2 linked regions of the Homo sapiens genome follow. The protein of the gene in region 2 purifies or fractionates together with the protein of the main gene of each other region. This does not show direct contact. Each region holds a gene or a part of one and is shown on either strand. Other genes may lie near its edges.

Region 1 (3,817 bases), on a different chromosome or scaffold from region 2:
TGACAAAAAGGACTGTAACTCTGACATGGACAATGGCTACAGAAAACACTAATTTTTGATATTAAAATTATTCTTGATGGAATTGGTTAAATATACTATAAAACTTGGCTTATAATCAGGATAAATCTTAAACTTGAGGGTCTTTAAAAATACATTTTTGGCACTTACCTTTCATCTTATATTACTAATGATGGGAATCTCAAACATATAAAAAAAGAATTCAGTTTCTTAGGAAATTATAATGCTTTTGAAAAACTAAAATTTTCTTAGTAAGCCTAGCAATGAGGCTTGCAGGCCCTATCACATGGCAAGCATAATATCTAAAAACAAAAGTCAGGTCAGGCATGGTAGCTCACGCCTATAATCCCAGAACTTTGGGAGGCCAAGGCGGGCAGATCACTTGAGGTCAGGAGTTTGAGACCAGCCTGGACAACATGGTGAAACCCCGTCTCTAAAACAAAATGAAACAGAGCAAAAAAAAAAAAAAAAAAAAAGCCCAACAAACAAAAAGTCTTTGTTGTATGGAGTAAGAACTACCTGAGAGCAAATAAGAAAAAAGAAAATTGGAAACAAGCACTTGTTTTCTTCTACCAGGATATAAAATATGCCAAAGAATACAAAAGAGCTATAGGATAGGAACAAAATCTCCACATATCTCAGACTGACACAGAACAAGCTGTTTTATTCCTCAGATATACATGTCTCTACAATGAAACTGCACACAAGGTCCTACTTATTGCTTGCCCCAGAGAGTACTGTTAAATGTACAGAGACTGGGAATATATCTAAATGTGGAGACACTGGTGCCTGTCATTGCTTTTGGGGAAGAGGCACAGATTACCCCATTGGGCACCAATAAGACTGGAGCACTTCAGAATTAGACAGCTGGGATGGAACTATAGAGCCTACCAAACTGAGAATCAACCTTGTGTACCATAAATGTGCTTTTCTTCAGAAGGCCAATCCCACAGGGACTAGGACACAGACCCCATCAGCAATGGTAGTGGCTGCATTACTAATAAAAATACACATGATTCAGGGATACATGGTATCAGGTGCAACTGACCACAACCATCTCATGGTAAATACCTAAGCCTTGAGAGCCTTAAACGCTATTCTAAATATTCTGAAGGAATCTCCTTTCCCAACAACCACTTCATATGCCTAATATTAAATACTCAAATTTTCAGAGTATACTAGCTAGATAAGACACATTTAAATGAAACATTTGCCCAACAAGGATGCCAAACATTAGAGTTTGTTTTATTGCATGACGTTTGCATAAGAAAAAAAGTTATTGAAAACTGTAAGGCATCATGCAATCATTGAATAAGCTAATTATTAACTGTACACTTAAGATAGGTGGACATATAATCTAAAATTTAAAAACTAGTTCCAGAAAAGTACATAAAAAATTTAACATGATGAGCTTTTAAATATGGTTTATAGTTTCATGTTGTTAAAAAGTGCTTCAAATGTACTGCTGGAAAGTTGCTCTTTACAAATGGCGCTGGGGTGATGTCAGATTATAAACTGTAAAAACCAAGTACTTTTATGGAATTAGAAAGCTAACATTGTGATACTCAAACTTACTTGAATCAGTTTTCAATTCTCATTCAAATTAAGTTGATTTAATATTAATAATCTAAAAAACATCTGTTTTATAACCAGCAAAAGTCTATTGAATTCAAGTTATGCATGTTGAGCAATCAAATCTCTGAGTAAGCCTGAACGTTGAGACCTGGAACCAATGTGAGTTTGTGTTAATCAATGTACTGTGCCATCCAGCGGAAGCCTTCTCCGTAACCTTGTCTTTTGAGCACACTACACATGAAAACTTCTAAGGGTCGGGCATTCAGTTCTTTCAGAGATATACTCCCCTAGAATAGAAGAGAGACATTTCGTTGGAATTTTATAAAATTAATAAAGCCCCACATCCCAGCAGAATTATAGGTTCTATTTTAGAACAAAGAATGGCTGTGATAAATCCATGACTGTGATAAAGTCGTGGCTGCTTGGCATCCAAGCCCCATGAACACACAAGAAGCCTCCTTCTCTCACTCTACCTTAGGGCAGGATGGCCACTCAGTGGGAAAGAGGTTAGCTTGCAAGATACCCAAGAATAAAAATAATCTGACTTAGAAAAAAATCCAAACTGGCTTCACTAATATTAAAGACAAACATTCCCTGAGAAGGTTTATGACCAAACAAAGCATTTCCTAAAATTAATATCAAGCTAATTTATAAAAAAGAAGACAGAAAACAGACCAAAGTCTACTTTGTCTGACTTAAGAGCCTCCTGCGGACCGGGCGTGGTGGCTCATGCCTGTAATCTCAGCACTCTGGGAGGCCAAGGCGGGCGGATCACCTGAGGTCAGGAGTTCGAGACCAGACTGACCAACATGGAGAAACCCCGTCTCTACCAAAAATACAAAATTAGCTGGGCGTGCTGGCACACGCCTGTAATCCCAGCTACCAGGGAGGCTGAGGCAGGAGAATCGCTTGAACCTGGGAGGCAGAGGTTGCAATGAGCCGAGATTGCACCATTGTACTCCAGCCTGGGCAACAAGAGCAAAACTCCATCTCAAAAAAAAAAAAAAAGAGCCTCCTGCTATATGCTGCAGTATTTCTCCACCCTGAAATAGTATATGTAAACTAAAAAAATTTTGTAAATCTCTGGGGTTCTTCCACTGTTTATCTGGATTTTTTCAATGCTGATGTTTCCCCCAAAATAAATCCTAGGAAAAGTGAATACCAAAACAATCCGTCTTAAAGCTTATTATAAAGTATATGTTCAGAAAACCGTAAAATATTCCAAGTTTATGTCTTATTTATCTCTGGTAAACTCAGGGCCTAAACACACTACTGGTATACTTAAACACTCAAATATATCGTTTGGTGGCTAATTCTGAAAATGTATGATAAATAACTTTGAAAGCTTTAATTTAGTTTCCTATAAGCACAAGCCTTAGGCATAACTCATCCTTGACATTTTTGTTGTCACCAAGAAAATGTTTCATTCCATGGTAGAAAGAAATGAGGACATTAAAAAGACCCACAGGTATAAATGACAGTTTTCTTTAAGAAAATGATAATGGGCTTGTATAGTTGGACAATAGTAATTTAAGAAGACATTTGTACTGTAGAATTAAACACACCCATCATAATTTTTTTTTTTTTTTTACCTTTCCTGTTGTCTGACCATATAAACCAAACATCTCTCGCAACCTCTCTTCACTGATGGCTTCAGGTCTGTCGATCTTATTCCCAAGAATCAGTATAGGCACATTAGCAATGGTTTCATCTGTCATTAGTGACTGAAAAAAACAAAACAATACAAAACAAGAGTTGATATGAAACCATCCAAAGAGCTTATTTTGATATGATAAAACAATAAAGGACTCATTTTCTACCATATCATGTCATACCAACGTTCTTTGTCAAACTTTCCCCACATTTTAAAGTGACCTCAATGAAACCATAAGCTAAATTCTTCTGTCTTCCTAAGGCTCTTCCTGTAAATGTTTACTCTGCTCATCCTTTAAAGGAGTGACATAGAACGTATAGAGCCAGCACCTTAGAAGTGAACAGATGTGGTTTCACTTCTGGCTCTACTGCTTTTGAGATGTGACTTTGGGCAAGTTAGCCTGACTGAAGCTCTAGAGAGAATTAGGAACAGTAGCATCCACCCTATGAAATTGAGAATTAAATCAAGTAATACGCACAGTCTCTGGAACAAAGTAGGAACTCAGGCATTCTCTGTCCTTGTTTTGTAACCATAGAACCTACCTGGACTTTTCCACACGTACAAGTATTT
Region 2 (4,378 bases):
GTTTGGAATCCAAGAACAGCTGGTAAAAAGTTAAAAAAAAATTTTTTTAGTGCCATCTGTTCTAAAGTGACTAGAAACAGGTAATAGTGTTTTTACCTTTATTTTCTCTTCTTGTTATCCTAATTCATTAAAGTTTTTATATGATTGGATTTTATACTTAAATCAATTACCTAGAGACTCCAAATCGGAATCTGCAAATACTGCTGGATCCTTTGTCACTAGAATCAAGAATATATAAGAGAGGAACACTATTTCTCTAGGGATACTACTGAGACTTATATGTAAGGTATGAGATGAGACAGAATCCCATCAGCTTTACTGTGCCTCCCATAACTTTGGAACTGTTAGAAGTTCAGAAAGAATGATTATGTGTAAGCCGACAAAATATAAGAAACAAAGATTGGGGGGATGAAATATTACAAATGCTGCATCTCTACAGAAAGACTTGCGTAATAGAATAATACAAACTTTATATAACAAGTCTGTGATTATAATTATAGTAGACTTTGCCTTTTGAGATCAGGCCTAGATAGTTTTTCACCACTGCTTCTGCCATGGACAGAGGTTAAGTGCTTTTTGAGAGCAGACTTGTGCTTGAAATCCATATCACAACAGTGGCATTTGTATGGCCGATCCCCACTGTGTATGTTCAAGTGGTCCTGAAGTGTGCTTTTGGCAGTAAATGTCTTCAAGCACACAGTACACTGAAAGGGCCGTATGCCCATGTGTCCTCGGATGTGTCGGTTGAGATTTTTCTTCTGTGTAAATGTTTTTCCGCACTGTAAGCATAAGAATAGTTTATGCATTTTAAGGTGGCGCAGATAGTTTTCAACATGAAGAAAGCCTCGAGGACACCTGGGGCACTGGTGCCTCAGTGAATAACCTTCCTCCAGATTCTGAATCTCACTCACTGTACCATAACTTCCTTCAGTATTCTCACAAAATAAGCCCTGATCTTGATTCCCAGGAACTTCAGCCACTCTGCTCTCAACTGTAGAATTGATCAATGAATGCTGTGTTTCAGAGAAATACATGCTTGCTTTTGAAGAGGTACAAGGCTGTGAAAACTGCCCATTTTCGACACCAGCTGTACTGATGGATTCTACATGAAGGATACAAATTTCATTGTCTTTAAAACCTATGTCTACTGTAGACAGCTCTGGTGACTTCATTTCCTTTCTCTCTGATGTCAGACTCTCTACTGTAGACTGCAAAGCATTGCTTTCCTCTTCTTTAACATGGAAATCTATGTTTACAGGACTATCTTCTGAAATTTCAATTATCTCACAGTCTTTATCAGAATTTTCATCTTCATTCTTAACATCAGGATCAGAAGACTGACACAGGTCAGTGTGTTGGTTGTTGTTTTTCATAGAAAGATCAATTTCCAGATACTTTGACAAAGCTTCTGTGCACTTTTCCACAATGTGAACCATCTGAAGGTAACTGGCAGCAGTCAAGTATTTCAAAAGCTCTTTCCTTTTAACTTCAAGTGCTCCAGTATAGCAAGACAGTAACAATTTTCTGCCAACTTCTGCACTCTGTAAGATGGTGATTCTGACATGTTTTGACTGTGTGAGTAAAAACTGATCTCTCATAAAAGTGGAGCAAGCAGCCAAAATCACCTTGTGCCCCTGGAACTCAGTGTCATTAATGTAAATTGATACATCACAAAATAAATTCTGCTGTCTCAAAAGATTCATTTTCTGCAAGACCACATCTCCTTGCTGTTCAAACTGGAAATGCAGAACATCAGACTCAGCAGCCATGATCACAATCTAAGCAAAATAAAACACAAACATTGATGTAATAAGGATAGGGAATGCTTTCCCATGCTGTAATGGTGAAAACAAACGAAAAACCCCAAACCTGAATTAGGAAGAAGAAGACTCAAAGTCTAATGTAGGTGTTATGAACCTTTATGCCACCATCTCAAAACGAGAACTTTATAATGCACTTCTCTATGATCTCATAGCACATTTTTCATAACTTTGTTACAACATTCATTACAATGAATTGTAGTGAACAGTTTCTAGCTTGTTTCTTTTGCTAAATGTTGTGTGCCTTGTGGTCAAGAACAATCTATCAATTTTGAATATCCAATATAAGCACTGTGACCACCAAAAAGTTGATTTAACATAATATATCCAATTAGCAACTTTAACGTAATCTCCAAACTTCCTACTCCCCACCACTACAACAGGTCCTCCTTCCGGTTCACCTGGACAACTGCAATGTCTTCCAACAGGTCTTCTTTATACCACACTCTTCTGTATGCCAGATTACCCGCCTGAGTGCCACCAGGATTAACAACCCTTATTTTATTTTATTTTTAATTTCCCTTTTCTGCTTTAAATCTTCTATCGTTCTTCTCTACCTCCGGGACAGTCCAGATTTCTTAGGAAAGAATACGAGACCCATCACGATTTGGCTCTAACCCATCTTTATGGCTTTATCACCTTCTATTCTCTTTTTCATACTCGAACCTCGTTCAATACTAAATTTTTCCATCATTACCCAGACAAAAAGACACGAATACACATTTCTTACATTCGCGTTTCCAGTTCCTTTTTTCAGCTAGTGATTAGGCTCCTTTAAGCCCAAATCAAGTAAAACTAATATGACTCCACCTCCCGTTTCAACCAGAGAGAGTCAGCTGCTCTCTGAGCACCGCGAGATGGTGCCTGATGCATCTGTGTTCCTGCACCGAGCTCAGGGGCCCACACAGAGCAGGAGGAGCTCAGGGAACATCTGCTGAACTGAAACCGGATGCCAGGTTCAGCACACAGGTATTCTGGAGGCAACCCTGCGAAGGGCCAAGGCCCTGTCGGCCCAGTGGTTGCAGCACAAGATTAGCCACTCCGGGGCCGAGCCCAGCTGTCCTCCTCCTCCTCCTCCTCTTCCTCAGGCACCCTCCACCTGAGGAATCTACTTTGCACTCACTCACCGACTCAGAAAACTAGAGTCAAGGATTCCGCGGCAGCGTCTGCCCAAGCCGGAAGATGGACTTAGCCTGGAAGAAAACACATCCGGTGCCAACCAGCTTTATTCTTTACTGGGGCCCTCTAGGCGCCCCGGAAGGACATTCTGAGACGGTCTTCCTTCCTCACTTCCCCCCTCTTGGAATGACAGAAAGGCTCCTGAATGCCGGCAAGCCCCATCTCTCTTGTCCCAGTTTCGGCACTCGAGCCGTTTTCCCCCACCATCCCTTTTTTTTTTTAAGACGGAGTTTCGCTCTTGTTGCCCAGGCTGGAGTGCAATGGCGCGATTTCGGCTCACTGCAACCTTCGCCTCCCGGGTTCAAGCGACTCTCGCTCCGCAGCCTCCCAAGTAGCTGAGATTACAGGCGCCCGCCACCACGCCCGGCTCATTTTTGTATTTTTAGTAGAGACGGGGTTTCACCATGTTGGCTAGGCTGGTATCGAACTCCTGACCTCAGGAGATCCGCCCGCCTCGGCCTCCCTAAATGCTGGGATTACCGGGTTGAGCCACCGCGCCCAGCCGAGCCATTTCCTTTTGTGAGTCCTCCTGAACATCCGAATTGGAGACGGGGTTTGAGGTTCGGTTACGGCACGTCTGTCAGAGTAACCAGACCTTTTATGGATTATTCTGGGACGATTCCTCTCCTTATTGGGGCCACCTACAACTTGAAAGGTGGCAGAGCAGAAACTATCATAAAGATCCGTATTCGAGATTGCCTAGATAATGCCCCATCAGGAGATGGCCCCAACCTCTGGATCTAGCTTCACACTTAAATGCGTTCCTCCATCCCAAAACTTTTGGCCCAGCTGTTTCCTCTGACGTGCCCTAGCCTTTTCCCCAGGCTTTTTTTTTTTTTTTTTGAGACGGAGTCTCTCTCTGTCGCCCAGGCTGGAGTGCAGCGGCAGGATCTCGGCTCACTGCAAGCTCCGCCTCCTGGGTTCACGCCATTCTCCTGCCTCAGCCTCCCGAGTAAGCTGGGACTTCAGGTGCCCGCCACTTCGCCTGGCTAATTTTTTTTTTTTTGTATTTTTAGTAGAGACGGGGTTTCACCGTGTTAGCCAGGATGGTCTCGATCTCCTGACCTCGTGATCCGCCCGCCTTGGCCTCCCAAAGTGCTGGGATTACAGGCGTGAGCCACCGAGCCCGGCCTTCCCCAACGTATCTTTAAAGAACCCGTTTATAAATCTCATCATCCTGAAGCCATCCTGAACTGCCCTAAGATAATTGGTTCCCAGTTTGAAACCTGTAATCCCTTTTCCTGCCTTCATTATTGCACTTAACACGCCTGTATTAATTTGTGCCTCATCTAGGCAGAGTTATTTAGGACAGTGGCTTACTGATCTTTGTATTCTCGAAGTCTAGCACTTGGTAGGCATCAAGTATTTGTGCTGAATGA

The links.
Region 1: the proteins of ZBTB6 (region 2) and SAR1B purify together in Homo sapiens (affinity purification with mass spectrometry, with the first as the bait; one large-scale study listed by BioGRID). This does not show direct contact.

The regions. Positions count from the first base shown.
Region 1 is NC_000005.10:134,605,187-134,609,003, forward strand, and holds part of SAR1B (small COPII coat GTPase SAR1B), read right to left. Parts: intron 3,318-3,817; coding exon 3,186-3,317; intron 1,881-3,185; coding exon 1,764-1,880; 3' UTR 1-1,763. UniProt on the Homo sapiens protein: Small GTPase that cycles between an active GTP-bound and an inactive GDP-bound state and mainly functions in vesicle-mediated endoplasmic reticulum (ER) to Golgi transport.
Region 2 is NC_000009.12:122,910,304-122,914,681, forward strand, and holds the start of ZBTB6 (zinc finger and BTB domain-containing protein 6), read right to left. Parts: upstream 3,021-4,378; 5' UTR 2,948-3,020; intron 1,779-2,947; 5' UTR 1,770-1,778; coding exon 495-1,769; 3' UTR 1-494. UniProt on the Homo sapiens protein: May be involved in transcriptional regulation.